Homo sapiens: one gene and its partners. The protein of the gene in region 1 interacts with the protein of each later gene in a pairwise test. Each region holds a gene or a part of one and is shown on either strand. Other genes may lie near its edges.

Region 1 (5,206 bases):
GGGCAGCAATGGCCTCTTGAGACGGCCCTGGCCGGGGCTGCTGACGCATTGGCTCCGATGACTCACGTGCGGGTGACCGTCACTCGAGTGGCCGTCTGGAGACTCGGACCGGCTCAGGGCCACCGCCTTCCTGGGGGCCTGTGGCCCCGCCGTGCCGGCCGCCCCCTGTCTGGACCAGCCTGAGTAATGGGTCCTTCCCCTCCTCCCAGTGGCCGGCTGGAGAGGACCTTAGTCATCAGCCCTGGCCCCGGCCCTCCCTCCTCCGCCTGCCCACCTCCGCCCAGGCTGCGTCTCGCTTCTCCGTCCAGGCTGGGGGACTCCTGCCCCTCCTGGCCTCCTCCCTCCTTGAGTTCCCCAGGAGGGGCTGCAGTGGGGTGGGTTTGGCTTCACAGGGGCGGCAGTGAGGGTGACGTCAGGGGCCTCAGGGACAGTTGTCCCATCCCTAAGATGAGAGGAAGGAAACAGCCATGTGGAACGCGTCAGGCATCACCAGGGCATGAGGAGGAGGCCTGGGGAGGACAAGCTGCTTCCTCCCCTCTTTGGTCCAGCGTGGGCCCTGTGCCCTGTAACCAGCAGTGGATGGGCCTCACCCTGCTTTCTGGGCCTGGGGTGTCCTAAATTCCAGATGGGAGCATCCAGATTCTCCGAGTGTGTAGTCGTCACGTGCTAGTGGCAGCCTGGGTCCCAGGGCTCTGCGTTTGCTCATCTCATCCTCCAGCGGCCCTGGGGCTGGGGAGCTGGATGGTCATTTGCCCCTGCTTTGTAGCTGAGGCCTGGGTGGTTGAGTGACTGCTGAGTTCCCAGCTAACCAGAGCTGGCTTGGCCCAGGCTGCTGGCCCCTGATGTCTCCTCTGAGATGCCCTGCCAGTCAGCTGAACTGATCCTGCCTTCTGGGTTCCGGGCACCCTCTCTGCTTGCTGGGGAACCCACAGATCCCATGTTTGGAACACTGGCCCACCTCCCTGGTTTCCTGTTCCTCAGTCATCAGAGTAGCAGGGTGCAGGGCAGTAGCTCCTCTCCTCCCCAGAGGGAGGTCCTCTCTGTCCAACTTCTCAGTTCTCCAGATATGTTCTGTGCACTCATGGGCAGATGCATATGTGTGGCACTTTGAGCCCAAATAGCATCCCACTGTGTGCACTCTGCCTCTTCCTTCCTCCTGCAGCCTTGACGTCATCCCCTGCATGCAACATCTTCCCCAGGATGCGTCAGCCTCCTCACCCATCTATAGGGCAGCCCTCACTCAGAAGGTGCTGTGATTCCACGAATCTCCTTTAAGGGTGGTTAGCTTATTTCTCGTCTGTGGCCCCTAGAGATTGTATTTGGGTAAGTTTCAGAAATAGAGTTCTTGGGTAAAGGACATGAGCCTTTAGAGTGTTGCTGAGTCTACGCAGCTGCCTTCCTGGGGGTCACCTTGCTTCATAAGCCCCCCGAGAGTGTGCTTCCCTGACTGCAAGCGAGGCTGACTCTTACGTCCTTCTAGCCAGCTCTGCTTGCTTTCCTGGGAACCATTAGCCCACATTCTTTGTGCATCTTTCGATCTCACTCTGTCACCCAGGCTGGAGTGCAGTGGCACAAATATGGCTCACTGCAGCCTCCACCTCCCGAACTCAAGTGATCCTCTCACCTCAGCCTCCCAAGTAGCTGGGAACACAGGCTCATGCCAGCATGCCTGGCTAATTTGTATTGATTTCTTGATGCTCTTTATATATGGAAGAGCATGGTAAATATGCTCCTAAGGACTGAGTGGCCCCGTGGTGAACTTGTCCCAGTGCAACGTGTTTCTTCTGATGAAAATGTACACATGCACACCTGCCTCCAAGGGCTTTACAGGAGGCACGAGAAGTCCTCCCATCCCTCCCCGCAAATCTCCTTGAACTTCTAAGGAAAAACCAGACCAAAATCAAAATGGCAAAGGCTGGCAAGGCCCATGCATACTTCTGGGAGACAAAGTGTCCACAGAAAGGCCGGCAGGGGTCACCCAGAGCCCGAATGCACAACCCTTGCCACAGCTGCAACACAAAGCTGATTCTGGGTGATCTGACCCCTTTTGGTCCCCATTGCCTGGACCGCGTGCCCATGAGGACGGGGCCTACTTCGTCTCATTTACGCAGCATCCCTGCATGCACGGGCAGGGAAGAGGAGTTTGCAAAGCCAGTGAGGCAAACTGGGGACAAGGAGAGACCTTGAGGGTCCTCAGAGGCACATGCAGGATGCGGCTTTGGCCCCAGGCAGCCTGGACACCCGTCGCAGGGTGTCGGTGAGAGGGCATGCCATTCGTGGGAAGCAATGAGACCCTGCCCTGGAGATGTCCAGGCAGGTGCTGGACCCCTGTGGGGGGCTGGATAGGGGAGAGCGGCCCATGAGCCTGCGACATGCTCCTCACAAGCCTCGGATCTGGATCTGTCATGGGTCTAGGGAAAAAAGAGCCAAGGCTTGGCTCAGGGCAGCAGCCTGGTCAAGTGGGATCGGGGCCGATGTGTGGGGAGGGGAGGAAGGGAGGAGGGGAGGTAAGCGTCCCTTCCACTTGGCAGGGGAAAGGCCACGGGGACAAGCCAGAGTCTCAGGGTGCACCTGGACCCCTTTCCTTCCCTGCCCTCCTCAGCTTTCAAAAGGCTGCACCCCCACCCTCCCAGGCAAACACCAGGTCTGGGCTCCAGCACCCCCAGCACCGCAGCATTGCTGGCCAGCCCAGATGACCGTGGCATTGGGCTCTGAGTAGCATATGTCCTGCTTCCCCAGGGACTCAAAGGCTTTCCACTGAGCACAGGCCCCACACTGGGTCCTTCGTGCTATGTCCCCACCCTCTAGGACATGCAGTGCCTCGCAGGCAGGGCTGGGGCTTGGGCAACTTCTCTGCCTGTGGTGCCTTGCAGGGCTGTGGTCAGCGCCTGGCCCTGAAGCCCCTCTCCCCGGCAGTTTGTCTTGATCACTCACCCTTTCCCAAGGGTCTCTGGAAGGGTGGTCTGAAGGGGAGGTCAGGGACCTCCGGTGGCAGCTGCTATGTTGACTGAGTGCCCACTGTGTGCCCTGTGTTTGACGTTGGCTCTTTAATGCCCACTGTGGTTTTGGGGCTGGCTGGCAGTGGGGCCAAGGAGCCTTCCGTCTCCTCCCGCTTTCTTGGAAAGATCAGTGCCCGCATTCCTGGCCTTTGCTTACAGGCAGGCGTGGGTCCCAGGAATGGGAGAGCAAATTCCAGAGGGCAGAGGCCACCAGGACAGAGCAGGGTGCCTCAGCCCGGTGGGGGTGGGGGTCTTAGAGGGGACTGATCCTGGAGGTGGCACCAGGGTCCACCCCCTGTTGTGTTCTGAGGAAGAAGTGGTGTGTTAACGGCTCCTAAGCTATTAATTCATTGATCCGTTCAACAGTTTCCCCAAATGAAATAGCAAAGGGGTGGTGGGGCTGGAGAAGAGGGGATGAGGGGGCAGTAGGGGCAGTGGGGGCTGGACCACAGAGGGCTCGTATACTCTGGGGTGCAGGGGGCTGTGGCGGGGCTTGCAGGGGACTTGAGAAGGCTCCCGTGTGTCCTTTGGTTTTTTTATTGAAGTGAAATTCACGTGACATAAAACTGTCTGAAAGTGGACAATTCAGTGGCATTTAGTAGATTCACAGTGGTATGCAAACACCACCTCTGTCTAGTTCCAGAACATTCTCATCCCTCCAAAAGGAGACCCCACCCCATCAGCAGTCACTCCCCCCTCCCCTCCCCCAGCCCTTGGTGGCACCCATCTGCTTCCTGTCTCTGCGGATTTGCCTGTTCTGGGCATTTCACGTCAGTGGAGTCATACACAGTGCGGCCTTTTGTGTCTGGCTTCTTGCACTGAGTGTTGTGTTCAAGGTAATAGTGTGTGTGTGAACCTCTGGGCCATGTCCCCACCTCTGCTTTCCCCGCAGCACGGCCGACAAGAACGGGGCCCTCAAGTGCACCTTCTCGGCACCCAGCCACAGCACCAGCCTCCTGCAGGGCCTGGCCACCCTCCGCGCTCAGGGCCAGCTCCTCGATGTTGTGCTGACTATTAACAGAGAGGCCTTTCCTGCACACAAGGTCGTCCTGGCTGCCTGCAGCGACTACTTCAGGTAAGTGCTGGCCCCAGGCAGCTGGAAGGGGCGGCTGCCTGTTGGGACAGGGACAGGGCAGATGGCACCCACTTTCTAAAGGGGGCCTGTCTCAGCGCTACCCAGGGACAGCTTCGAGGGAGAACGGCTGGTACCGGCTGCTCTTTTTTTTTTTTTGAGATGGAGTCTCGCGCTGTTGCCCAGGCTGGAGTGCAGTGGCACAATCTCGGCTCACTGCAACCTCCGCCTCCTGGGTTCAAGCAGTTCTCCTGCCTCAGCCTCCCGAGTAGCTGGGAGTACAGGCACCCGCCACCATGCCCAGCTAATTTTTTTTGTATTTTTTAGTAGAGACGGGGTTTCACCATGTTGGCCAGGCTGGTATTGAACTCCTGACTTCGTGATCTGCCTGCCTTGGCCTCCCAAAGTGCTGAGATTATAGGCGTGAGCCACCGCTCCGGGCCCCTTCTGATTTTAGAGAGAGGTTTAATGTCCAGTAAACCTGCAGGTTTCCCGGAGTTTGCATCTTACTCTCTTTGGGCAGAACATGCCTGGAGGGACAGAGATGGCCTGTGGGCACCCACTCACTTCTACCCTGCATGCAGGGTGGCAGGGCTTGGCCAGGTTTTTGATCTGTTTTGTTTTTTTTTTTTTTGAGACAAAGTCTCGCTGTGTCGCCCAGGCTGGAGTGCAGTAGCACAATCTTGGCTCATTGCAACCTCCGCCTCCCGGGTTCAAGCGATTCTCCTGCCTCAGCCTCCCGAGTAGCTGGGACTACAGGCGCATGCCACCACACCTGGCTAATTTTTTGTATTTTTAGTAGAGACGGGGTTTCACCATGTTAGCCAGGATGGTCTTGATTTCCTGACCTCATGAGCCACCTGCCTCAGCCTCCCAAAGTGCTGGGATTACAGGCGTGAGCCACTGCGCCCAGCCCAATCTGTCTTTACTTGACGCCTGCTGTATGCCAGGCACTATTCTAGTCCTTGGGATGCAGCAGGGATGACAGTGAAATGGGCACAAGCCCCTGCCCTCAGGGCATCCCCTCAGGACACCTGGAGCAGGACAGCTGGGGGACTGGAGGGGCATCGAGGGCCGCAGAGACCCTGTGTCTGCCAACACCATGTCCTGGGCTCTGTCTGAGGCCCAGATGAGT
Region 2 (3,500 bases), on another chromosome or scaffold:
GCCACTCATTCAACAGACCATTGCTGGTTGCCTTCTCTCTGCTCAGTTCTATGTTTGGCACAGCCTCAGTCTAGTAGGCTCACATTTTTTTGCCAGCAGTGGATCAGGGCCGGGCTGTGGGAATGACAGGAAGAGGGACATGTGAGAAGCATTTGGGGCGTGTCCTGGAGATCTGAATTCAGTGGCTCTGGCTAAGTGAGGACACTGTTCTTGTGGCAGACTGTGACCCTGCCCCCTTCCCACAGCTGGCTTTGGGGGCATCCTGGGGCTGGGCAGCCTAGGCCTGGGCTCTGCCAACTTCATGGAGCTGCAGCAGCAGATGCAGCGGCAGCTGATGTCCAATCCTGAGATGCTGTCACAGATCATGGAGAACCCCCTGGTCCAGGATATGATGTCTAACCCTGATCTGATGCGTCACATGATTATGGCCAACCCCCAGATGCAGCAGTTGATGGAGCGGAACCCTGAGATCAGCCACATGCTCAATAACCCTGAACTCATGAGGCAGGTGAGTATGAGAGGGCTGGAGAGCTGGAGGACACTGGTGCCCAGCCGTGCCCTGCCCAGCCTTTCCTACTTTGTCCTACATTGATTTGTTCATTCGTGTATTCAGCAGTTTTGAACACTGGAGGTACAGGGATGAAAAGACAGGCCTAGCTTTTCAGGAATTCCAGGTGTCAAAGGGAAGTAGGACAAGTAAACCGGCAATTAGAATACAATGTGGCCATTGCTATCAGAAGGATAATCATGGGATCCTCTAGGAGCATAGAGAAGAGCTCCTGACCCTACCCTAAGGCTTAGAGGAGGCCTTAAGAAATGTCACCGAGCTGAGACCCAAAGGAGGAAGACGAACCAGGGGGAAAGAAAGAAGAACATTCAGGGCTGAGGGACAGCAAATATAAAGGCCTGGGAGTGAAAGATAGTAGGTTGTTTGGGGAGCACTGTGGCTGGGCAGGGCCCAGTTGGGAATGGAGAACCAGGGGAGACTGTTGTGATGTTGCTCTTTGGGAGTTCCAGCTCATGGTCCGCTCCACCAGAGGACCAAGGTAGATGATCTTCCCAGCAGGGCTGTGGACACCAGTGCTGGACTCACCAGAAGATAATTTATGTAAGGTCAAGGACTTGTGAGTGTTTTGTTCACTGTCTAGAACAGTGCCTGGTGCGTGGTAGTCATGCAGTAAATATTTATTGAATGAATGAATTACGGAACAAGAGATCAGAGTTCTGGGAAGCTGGGCATATCAGTTATAAAGGAGTCTTAGAAAAGGCAAGTGTGGAGCACATTTGGGAAGGAGAGGGAAGGTATTCCAAGTTGAATGGGAACAAGTAGTTATACTTATTTTTCTGTGATGAACTCCCCCGGGGTTGACATAGCCACCCCTTATTGAGATTGTGCCATTGGCTCCATAGAAGAAAGCCCCCATCTTCAGTGTTTCTCAAGGTTCAGGCAGAGCAAAGACTTGGGGGTGGGAATTACAGGGTGTCAGTAGCTTTATTCCAGCTTGAACGCTTTCCTTCCCCAACTTGCAGTCATTTACCAGGAATCACAGTATGGTCTTGGACAGACCAACCAACCTGGCTTTGAACACTGTCTTCACCACTCAGTGACTGTGTGTCCCAGGGCAGCAAGTCAATTAACATCTCTGAGCCTATTTGCTCATCTGCAAAATAGGGACAGAAATAAACACCTGAGATGGTTATTGTGGAGATTACATGACTTGAATTCCGTAAGCTACTTGGCCCTGTGCCCATATACAGTAGGTTCTCAGTAGATGTTAATTTTCTCTTCTGCCTCCTCCCCTTTCTTTCTGTGTCTCTTCTGACTCAGTTTCCTTGTGCACCCTGACACTTCTTTGGACACTCTGAGCCTAAGGGAGGGAAGCTGCTGCCCTCACTTCAGCTGGGATCATTGTCCTCCACTAGAAAAAGCCAACCAAAATACCCACAGGGAGGCGGGCTTGGAGCCAAGATTACAGTAGAGGAAGGAAGTCCAGTTTACTCTACTCCCTGTCACTGTGGGGCAGTTCCTGGGCCCTGGTCCTGATCCTGATACAGACCCCCCTTCCTCAAGGCCCACCCTTTTCCTAGGTTGGTGCTCCCCTGGTTCCGGGGCCCATTTTGTCTCTCTCCCTTGATCAGACAATGGAGCTTGCTCGGAATCCAGCCATGATGCAAGAGATGATGCGGAACCAGGACCGGGCCCTGAGCAACCTTGAGAGCATCCCTGGAGGGTATAATGCCCTCCGCCGCATGTACACGGACATCCAGGAGCCCATGTTCAGTGCTGCCCGGGAACAGGTGGGATCAAGGGCCAGGGTAGTGGGTTGGGCTGTCTGGGCTCGAGATTCCCTACCCCCACCCCAGGCAAACCTGGGCCTGCTCTTCTTTCTTTCCCCAGTCCCCTGAGGGGTGGGCCTTGGCTTGAAGGCAGTTCTCAACAGTACATATCCGGGGATGGTCCATTTTGGCATGGACAAATATAAGCAGAGGTCCTTGTGGAAGTGGTTGAGGCATAGCATCCAAGGAACTTGACATCCTGACAAACTTCTTGTACCAGGGGCTCAAAGGTCACGTGGCAGGCCTGAGGTCAGACGCCAGCCCTGATACAGCATGTCTCAAGTATGGTCCATGGATCACCTGCATCAGAATCACCTGGGGACCTTGTTGATAATGAGAATCCTGGTCCCCACCTTTGAGCTACTTATTGAATCCATTTCTGGGGTTGGGCCCCAGGATTATACACTTTTAAAAATGCTTTATGAATCCTATTCAAGTACACACAAAAAAATAGATAAAAATGTAACATTCTTTTTTTTTGTTTTTAATCAATGTTGCCCTAACATGTTGCCATATATAATTTCAGTGCCCTTTTGGTTCTTTCTTTCTTTCTTTTTTTTTTTTTTTTTTGAGATGGAGTCTCGCTCTATCGCCCAGGCTGGAATGCAGTGGCGCAATCTCGGCTCACTGTAACCTCCGCCTCCCGGGTTCAAGCAATTCTCCTGCCTTCTCCCTGGTGGCTAAGACTACAGGTACATGCCACCACGCCCGGCTAACTTTTTATATTTTTAGTAGAGATGGGGTTTCACCATGTTAGCCAGGATGATCTTGATCTCCTGACCTCATGATCCGCCCACCTTGGCCTCCAAAAGTGCTGAGATTACAGGAGTGAGCCACCGCGCCTGGCCATGGTTCTTTTTAAAAATTTAATTTTACATTAAACACATTCTATGTTTGTATGTTTGAAAATGCAAAAGTTGGCCAGGCGCAGTGGCTGACACCTGTAATCCCAGCACTTTGGGAGGCTGAGGTGGGCGGATCACGAGGTCAGGAGATCGAGACCATCCTGGCTAAAATGGTGAAACCCCATCTCTACTAAAAATACAAAAAATTAGCCGGGCATGATGGCACATGCCTGTAGTCCCAGCTATTTGGGAGGCTGAGGCAGGAGAATCGCTTGAACCCGGGAGGCAGAGGTTGCAGTGAGCCAAGATCGTGCCACT
Region 3 (3,500 bases), on another chromosome or scaffold:
CAAACATCTTTTTTTTTTTGTCCTTAACACAAACAAAGATGCCTCTCGACATTTCACTATTTAAAGATTAGGTCCTTCAAACGTTTTTTTGATGTTAGTCTTTTTCCTGTTTTGCTACTAACCTGACCCTTCATGATAAGACAGAATAAAGGACAGTGAAAGTAACTAAAATGCATATTTGGTAGATTTTGTTACTCGCCCTGATACACAGCTTCATGGAAAAATAAGCTGCAGCTAATGAGTAAAACCCAAATTAGAGTAATTCAATAAATGACTACCAAAAGCAAGATGGTATTAATTCAAAAGACATACAGACACGGGCCTTGGTGGTAAGGAACTTAAAGTTGTTAAAAATTAATAGATTTCATTGTTGGTCTGCATATATCCTCTAACTTCAAATAAACACAGATAACTGTTATAAATACATACATATACATATATATAAATATACACATATATGTAGAGAGAGGGAAAACGCCACTGAGATGTTAACTTCCACAAACTGATGCATACCATGTTTATTTCAAAATATCTGTCAAATACTTCTTGAGCAGTAACATTTTCCCATTCCAGAAATGAGGCTGAATAGATTTCAAGGTTCCTTTCAGCTTTACCTTTACAATTAGCTGAAAATATGAGTCCTGATAAATAAAGTACAGTATATTGAGGAGATCAAGAACTAATTCCAAGATTTAATTTCTTATTAGTTACTAAACCTTTCAAGTCTATGTTTAATAAAGGATATCAAACCTGTAAAACCAAATTCATTTCACTTTCAGACCTTTAGTCTTATATCAACATAATAAATTATCTGTTTTCAAGTAAAAGCTCCAGTAAAAGATAGTTATAATTCCTGTCTCAAAGGCTCTTTGAGACTGTTCAATAGACTAAACATTTAATTTTCTCTTGTAGCCTAAAATGATACTTACGTCAAGCACTGATCCAGAGAGATCAGCTCGTTCAAGATTTGCACAGCAAAGATTTGCATGTGCAAGATTACAGCGGCTTAAATTGGCCATTTTGAAGTTAATGTATCGAAGGTCCAAACGAGAAAGATCAGCACCACTGAAGTTCAAACCCTGAAATAAAAAAGCACAAATTGTCACCATAACTAAATCGTCTGTTTGTATTAAATTTAATTACTATAGCTAACCACCAAGTTTTTTTTAGAAGCAATTGGCAGTTCAGTCACTTGGAGTTTATTACAGAACATGATAAAATGGAACTTAGATACATAAAAGAAGTGTCCTTAAATAGGTTCCTCATAAAAGAAACTCTATCAATATATACATTAGAATATAGCCCGGCTATAATTCATTTCTGTGTAGAAGCTTCTAAAGAGGGATCCCTGTTAGTCCTATACCTGCTAATAAGTATTTAAACCTAATTATATTTAAATTATTTTATTAATTCAGTAATTCAAAACAGTTTATTAGGCAAAAATGAGTACTGTGGTCTTTACAATTTGAAATGCTATAGTACACATAAGTAAAGTACCTGCCACTGATCAGCCCATATATTGCAAATGTACAAATACTGACTTTTAAAAAACTGCTGCAATTTCTATGCATTATTCATAAACTGTTGCATGAGGTATAATTAGACAATTTAAAAAGGCTATTATTGCATCTCTTTTTCGTTAACCATTTCAGAACTAAATCAATGCTATGACTCATAATTAAATTAGATCTTGCATGTAAAAGAAAAACAAAGCAAGATAATCCCAAAACACTAGAAGAATGTAAAATTTTATTCATAGATTTGCTGATAGAAATAATTGATGTAAAAGCCTGCTAATTACCTGGCATCGCAGTTCTGACTTGGTTGGAGTTGCTAGCAAAAATCGGACAAATTCCTTTCGGGATATTGGTGAATGATCCTCCGGTGGTTGAGAATTCTTAAAAAAGACATTAAGAAATTAGTGGAGTCTTTTGGGAGATAGCTACAATGAATGTAACACTGGCTAATGTAAAAACAGGCTTACCTTTATTGCCACTTCTAGGTGTTCAATCAATGAGTCAATACCAAAAAATCTTGCTTCTTCTAACACACCTATCAGAACAAAAATAATTCTGAAACAACCTAATTTAGTGAATGTATTACATTCATTTTGAATTTACTAAAATACGATTAGTTCACATAATCTTAACATTTAATTGCCTTTTTAAATGGAGCAGATCTGAACAGGTTTGCCACAAGTATCTTTTACATACTGAATCAGAAAATGATAGAAATGAATAAAAGTTTAAAAAGTACAAAAAAGTCAAAAGTATAATTCAGAAATCTGTCTTATAGGAGAATAAATTTTAAAATATTTGTAAATACTAAAAGAGCTTTCATTTATCATTTACTTTAACTTGGTAAAAAAAAATGTACATCCTTTACATGACTTGGTATATTTACTTATTCTAATCTGTTAATAAACATCATCAGAATGTGTGGGAATACATTTGGGTTCCATTATCTTTCAAATGAGAAGACCTCAATCAGTTGGCTGTTGACTCAGTAAAAAACTACTTAGAACTCTGGAATTACAAAGAAAGTATCAGACATAATCCCTCCCTTCAAACACTTACAAGCTAATAAGGGTAAGTAGATACAGAAAACCAGAAGCAGTTATTTGGGAAGAATAATACAATCTTTTCTGTGAAGACCAAACTCTATGGTCAACAATCCAATTGTAAAACAAACGTCATCCAAGGTACAGCATCGGGCTACCACTCTGGCATACAGGGTCCACATTTCCCCTTCAAGAGGCATCCAAAGATTATGCCATTCCGTTCGGATATATATCCCTGGTGGAAACTCAACATATTATAAAAGAGGTTCTTGTGGGCCACGCTCTCAATTTGCCAAGGTCTAAGTAAAGCAGAACTCTTAGGGAATGCAGCCAGGATACGTTTCCAATTCTAGGTTTAGAATTAAACCTTTAAAACATCCAGAGAAGCCATAGAAATACAAAAGACAGGCCGGGCTCACACCTGTAATCCCAGCACTTTGGGAGGCTGAGGTGGGTAGATCACTTGAGGTCAGGAGTTCGAGACCAGCCTGGCCAACACATGGTGAAACCCTGTCTCTACTAAAAATACAAAAAATTAGCCAGGCGTGGTGGCAGGTGCCTGTAGTCCCAGCTACTCGGGAAGCTGAGGCAGGAGAATGGCGTGAATCCAGGAGGCGGACCTTACAGTGAGCCGAGATCGCGCCACTGCACTCCAGCCTGGGTGACACAGCAAGACTCCATCTCAAAACAAAAAAAATACAAATATTAGCTGGGCATCATGGTGTGTGCCTGTAATCCCATCTACTTGGGAAGTTGAGGCAGGAGAATCACTTGAACCCAGGAGGCATAGGTTGCAGTGAGCAGAGATCACACCATTGCACTCCAGCCTGGGTGACAGAGCGAGACCCTGTCTCAAAAAAAAAAAAAAAAAAAAAAAAAAAAAAAAAATCTGGATTTGAATCCCAGCTCTGCCACTCACTACTTTTTGGTGTTAGTGAAA
Region 4 (3,500 bases), on another chromosome or scaffold:
CACCATAATCAGTGTTTTTAGGATGTATGGAGGTTTCCAGCTCTTCTGATTAATACAGAATTCCTTCATGGACTACACTTGATTTTAGTTAAAAGGCTGAGCAGCGATAGACTCTTCATGGAAATAGATTTTTTAGGAGACATTTAATGGTGGGAAAGAAATTTTCCAAAAGGCTAGAGAAAATAGAGAGCCTTTGAGTCTAGTTTTAAGGTCCTGTTTTACTCAGTCCCTGTTTTTCTTGATCCTAGTCTTAGACCCAGAAAGACATTTCTAGAAATCTTTTAGTAAGAAAATACTGGCCAATACTTTGGAATTATTAAGTTCCTTAGGGACCTCTTTTCTCCTGAAATACGAGAGTAGTAGACCCTCAGCTGATCCACTTTGCTCCCTGCGCCCTTTCCCCCTTGATTTTAAAGCCGAGAGGAAAGAGAAAGCTCTTCTAAAATTGTCGGTATTTCTTCTCACATAAAACAAAAAAAAATTTATTGAATTCCTACTGCATACATATCTCTGTGAGAGTATATTGGGAGTTAGCACAGCATAAAGTCTGTTAGGAAGAGAGAACAATTACACATAAATCGAACAACAGAAGATAGTATGTGACAATGATACAGACATAGGGAACCAAAAGAGTGGAAGAGCTCTGAGGACTACAGTGATTAGAGAAAGCCTCATAAGGAGATACAGGATTTGAGCTGAGCCTTAGAAATGGTTTGGCAGAGAGGATACAAGAAGATATTTTTAGGAAGGAACAAAGTCAGAGAGATAGGAATGAAAATGGTATTTTTAAAGGAGAGGTAGTAGACTAATCTAGCCAGAGTAGAGTATTTCACATTCAAGAATAGTCAGCAAAACAATTTAAAAGGTAGATGAGGGTGATACACAGAGGGCTTTAAATGCCAGGCCAGTAAGTATGAGGGTTTTTTTTTTAGTTCTATAGGTAATGGGGGAACCATTGAAAATTCTTAATAGGACCATGATTTGATAAGGACCTCTCTTTAAAAAGAGAGGCTGTCAGTTCTTAATATAATTCGAAATGAAAATGAGAAATGATTTCTGAAATAGATTTCAAAAGCAAAGATTTAGAGTAAGGGTAGCCAATCTTTTCAGTGCTTTATGTCATCAGTAAGACCCTGCCCATGGCTAATGATTGATGGAGGAAAAAAAAAACCCCAGACGTTAAAAAAAAAAAAAGGTGAAAAATAAATTGGAAAATATGAATGTGGTAAATTGTAGAGTACTGCTCATAATTGCCGTAAATGCTCTTCAGTGTCCTTTATGCCATAAACTTTTCTACCTCTGATCTTGGCTTAGATAAGAATCCCATTATAGATGTTGTACAAAATTTAGTTAAGGTCCTGAATGGAGTGGCCATTTGGAATTCTATCAGTGCTTAGTTGAATCAGCATTAACCCTAGTGTTTGTCCAGAAATCAGATTCTTCCAGGTATAGAATCTCAGTCTGCCATATGCCAGTATGCCATTGCAATGGCAGCTTATTTGTTGGCTTTGAATGTTTTGGGGTTCTCTCTTGAATAACAATTTTTGATTAAGTTTCCTACTAACATTTTTCTAAACGCTACTGGCACCTGAGGGAGATTTTTTATTTGTTTTAATATTACTATGTTTAAGAATATGGATTCCTGGCCCCTACCCAAAGAATCTCAAGGAATGGGAGTCCTGGGGCTCTACATTTTTTAAAAAGTCCCTGAGTGGTTCTGTTGACCAATTCATTTTATGAATGACTAACTGAAGGAAGAGTTTTTCAGTGTTATAATTTATCAAGATCTTTGGTTTATATTCCAGCATCCTCCTGTTTATATGCTATTGGCAAAATTCCAAATAGGAAGGAAGAATTGGTTTGTCCAGGTGTGGTGTCTCACACCTGTAATCCTAGCACTATGGGAGGCTGAGGTGGGAGGATCTCCCAGGAGATTGGCCTGAGCAACATAGTGAGTCCTATCTGTACAAAAAAATAGAAAACATTAGCTGACTGTGATGGCACATGCCTGTAGTCCCAGCTACTCGGGAGGCTGAGGTGGGAAGATTGCTTGGGCCCTAGCAGTCAAGGTGGCAGACAACAGAGTGAAACCATGTCTCAAAGAAATAATTGGTTTATAAAATCCTGTCTGACTTTCCCTCTTATGTCTCCATCACTTTCTTCAGATATTTCTAAGGTGTTAGGACTCATTATCCACCTACCATAGTCATAAATTGTCTGAATTTCCTTCTATATCATGACTGTGTGTACAGAAATTCTTACCGTCCTTAATTTTTTCAAAAAGAGCTCAAACTAAGAAAATACATTTTTAAATGCATATTCAGAATATTGATTCTTTAACAAAGGTGATTTTAGCCAGCCTTTGGCTTATAGAGTATGCCCCTCATTCCGTTTTCTCCATATTAAAACCTGGATGCGGAAATTCTAGAGAAATGCTAGGTAACTTACTTACAGGTCTAACATGAGTCAGATTTAGGTTTGGCATTGTTTCCAGGTCTGTATTCTCTTCATTCCTGCTTCTTATTCACACCTAAGGTTACCTTTTAGCCACAGGCTTTTCTTCGATCTCTGGCTTCCTTACTTTGGTCCCACAAATCCTACCCAGGAATTTGTTTTCTAGGATGAAGAACTATTTCCTCTATAACCCTTAAACATTCTGCACTTTAATATATCCTGCATTGTCTAGCAACTGCCTTTTCCTTTCTGTGAAGCCTTCTGGCTTTGGACTCTTGGAAATCTAATATTTACCCTGACTTGTTTTTCGAATCCTGAAATGTATTTATTAGCCTGTTATCAGTATCAGCTCCACCCTTAGCTAAAGCGCTCACTGTCTACACGTGTTACTAACATCTGGCCTAAGACATTCATTGTGGCCATGTTCTTATAATAGAAGATATCACCTTTTTCAGAAGTTTGTCTGCATCACATCAGCTCTTTCCAAGGAACTAGAGATTCCTCATCTCTTTATATTTTGCATTGCTGACTAATTTCTTGTTTCATGTCTGAGGCGCCTCCAGTTTCTGCTTTTATTGCAAAACAGTGATGACCAGAACTTTCTGAACAGCCCTGTTCATTTCTCCAGATCTCTTTGATGACTTACTACAAGTTCTTCCAGAGGAGTAATCATCCAGAAATCCTATCACTGCAGTTTTACAGTATCAAAAATAACATTATAATTCAATAAATAGCATATAATTCACAGTAGGTAGATAAAGAGGCTGTTTTGCTTGTACATACTAATTTTAAAATTGCAACTCAGTTATTTGACTTTGTTGTTGTTGTTCTTGTTGTTGTTGTTTTTTGAGATGGAGTCTCGCTCTGTCGCCCAGGCTGGAGTGCAGTGGCGCGATCTCTGCTCACTGCAAGCTCTGCCTTCCAGGTTCACGCCGTTCTCCTGCCTCAGCATCCCAAGTAGCTGGGACTGCAGGCACCCGCCCCCACACCCGACTAATTTTTTTTTTTGTATTTTTAGTAGAGACGGGGTTTCACCATGGTCTTAA

Evidence for each region.
Region 2: the proteins of KLHL26 (region 1) and UBQLN4 interact in a two-hybrid assay, tested with the Homo sapiens proteins (one large-scale study listed by BioGRID and IntAct).
Region 3: the proteins of KLHL26 (region 1) and KCTD9 interact in binary tests that used the Homo sapiens proteins (3 or more experiments, as listed by UniProt).
Region 4: the proteins of KLHL26 (region 1) and ACIN1 interact in a two-hybrid assay, tested with the Homo sapiens proteins (one large-scale study listed by IntAct).

Annotation. Positions count from the first base shown.
Region 1 is NC_000019.10:18,660,370-18,665,575, forward strand, and holds part of KLHL26 (kelch-like protein 26), read left to right. Parts: intron 1-3,891; coding exon 3,892-4,074; intron 4,075-5,206. UniProt on the Homo sapiens protein: May play a role in endo(sarco)plasmic reticulum (ER/SR) mitochondrial signaling. May be part of the ubiquitin-proteasome system (UPS) and affect ubiquitination and degradation of target substrates in cardiomyocytes.
Region 2 is NC_000001.11:156,047,299-156,050,798, reverse strand, and holds part of UBQLN4 (ubiquilin-4), read left to right. Parts: intron 1-245; coding exon 246-508; intron 509-2,139; coding exon 2,140-2,298; intron 2,299-3,500. UniProt on the Homo sapiens protein: Regulator of protein degradation that mediates the proteasomal targeting of misfolded, mislocalized or accumulated proteins.
Region 3 is NC_000008.11:25,434,434-25,437,933, forward strand, and holds part of KCTD9 (BTB/POZ domain-containing protein KCTD9), read right to left. Parts: intron 2,053-3,500; coding exon 1,985-2,052; intron 1,898-1,984; coding exon 1,802-1,897; intron 1,080-1,801; coding exon 930-1,079; intron 1-929. UniProt on the Homo sapiens protein: Substrate-specific adapter of a BCR (BTB-CUL3-RBX1) E3 ubiquitin-protein ligase complex, which mediates the ubiquitination of target proteins, leading to their degradation by the proteasome.
Region 4 is NC_000014.9:23,085,137-23,088,636, reverse strand, and holds part of ACIN1 (apoptotic chromatin condensation inducer in the nucleus), read left to right. Parts: intron 1-3,500.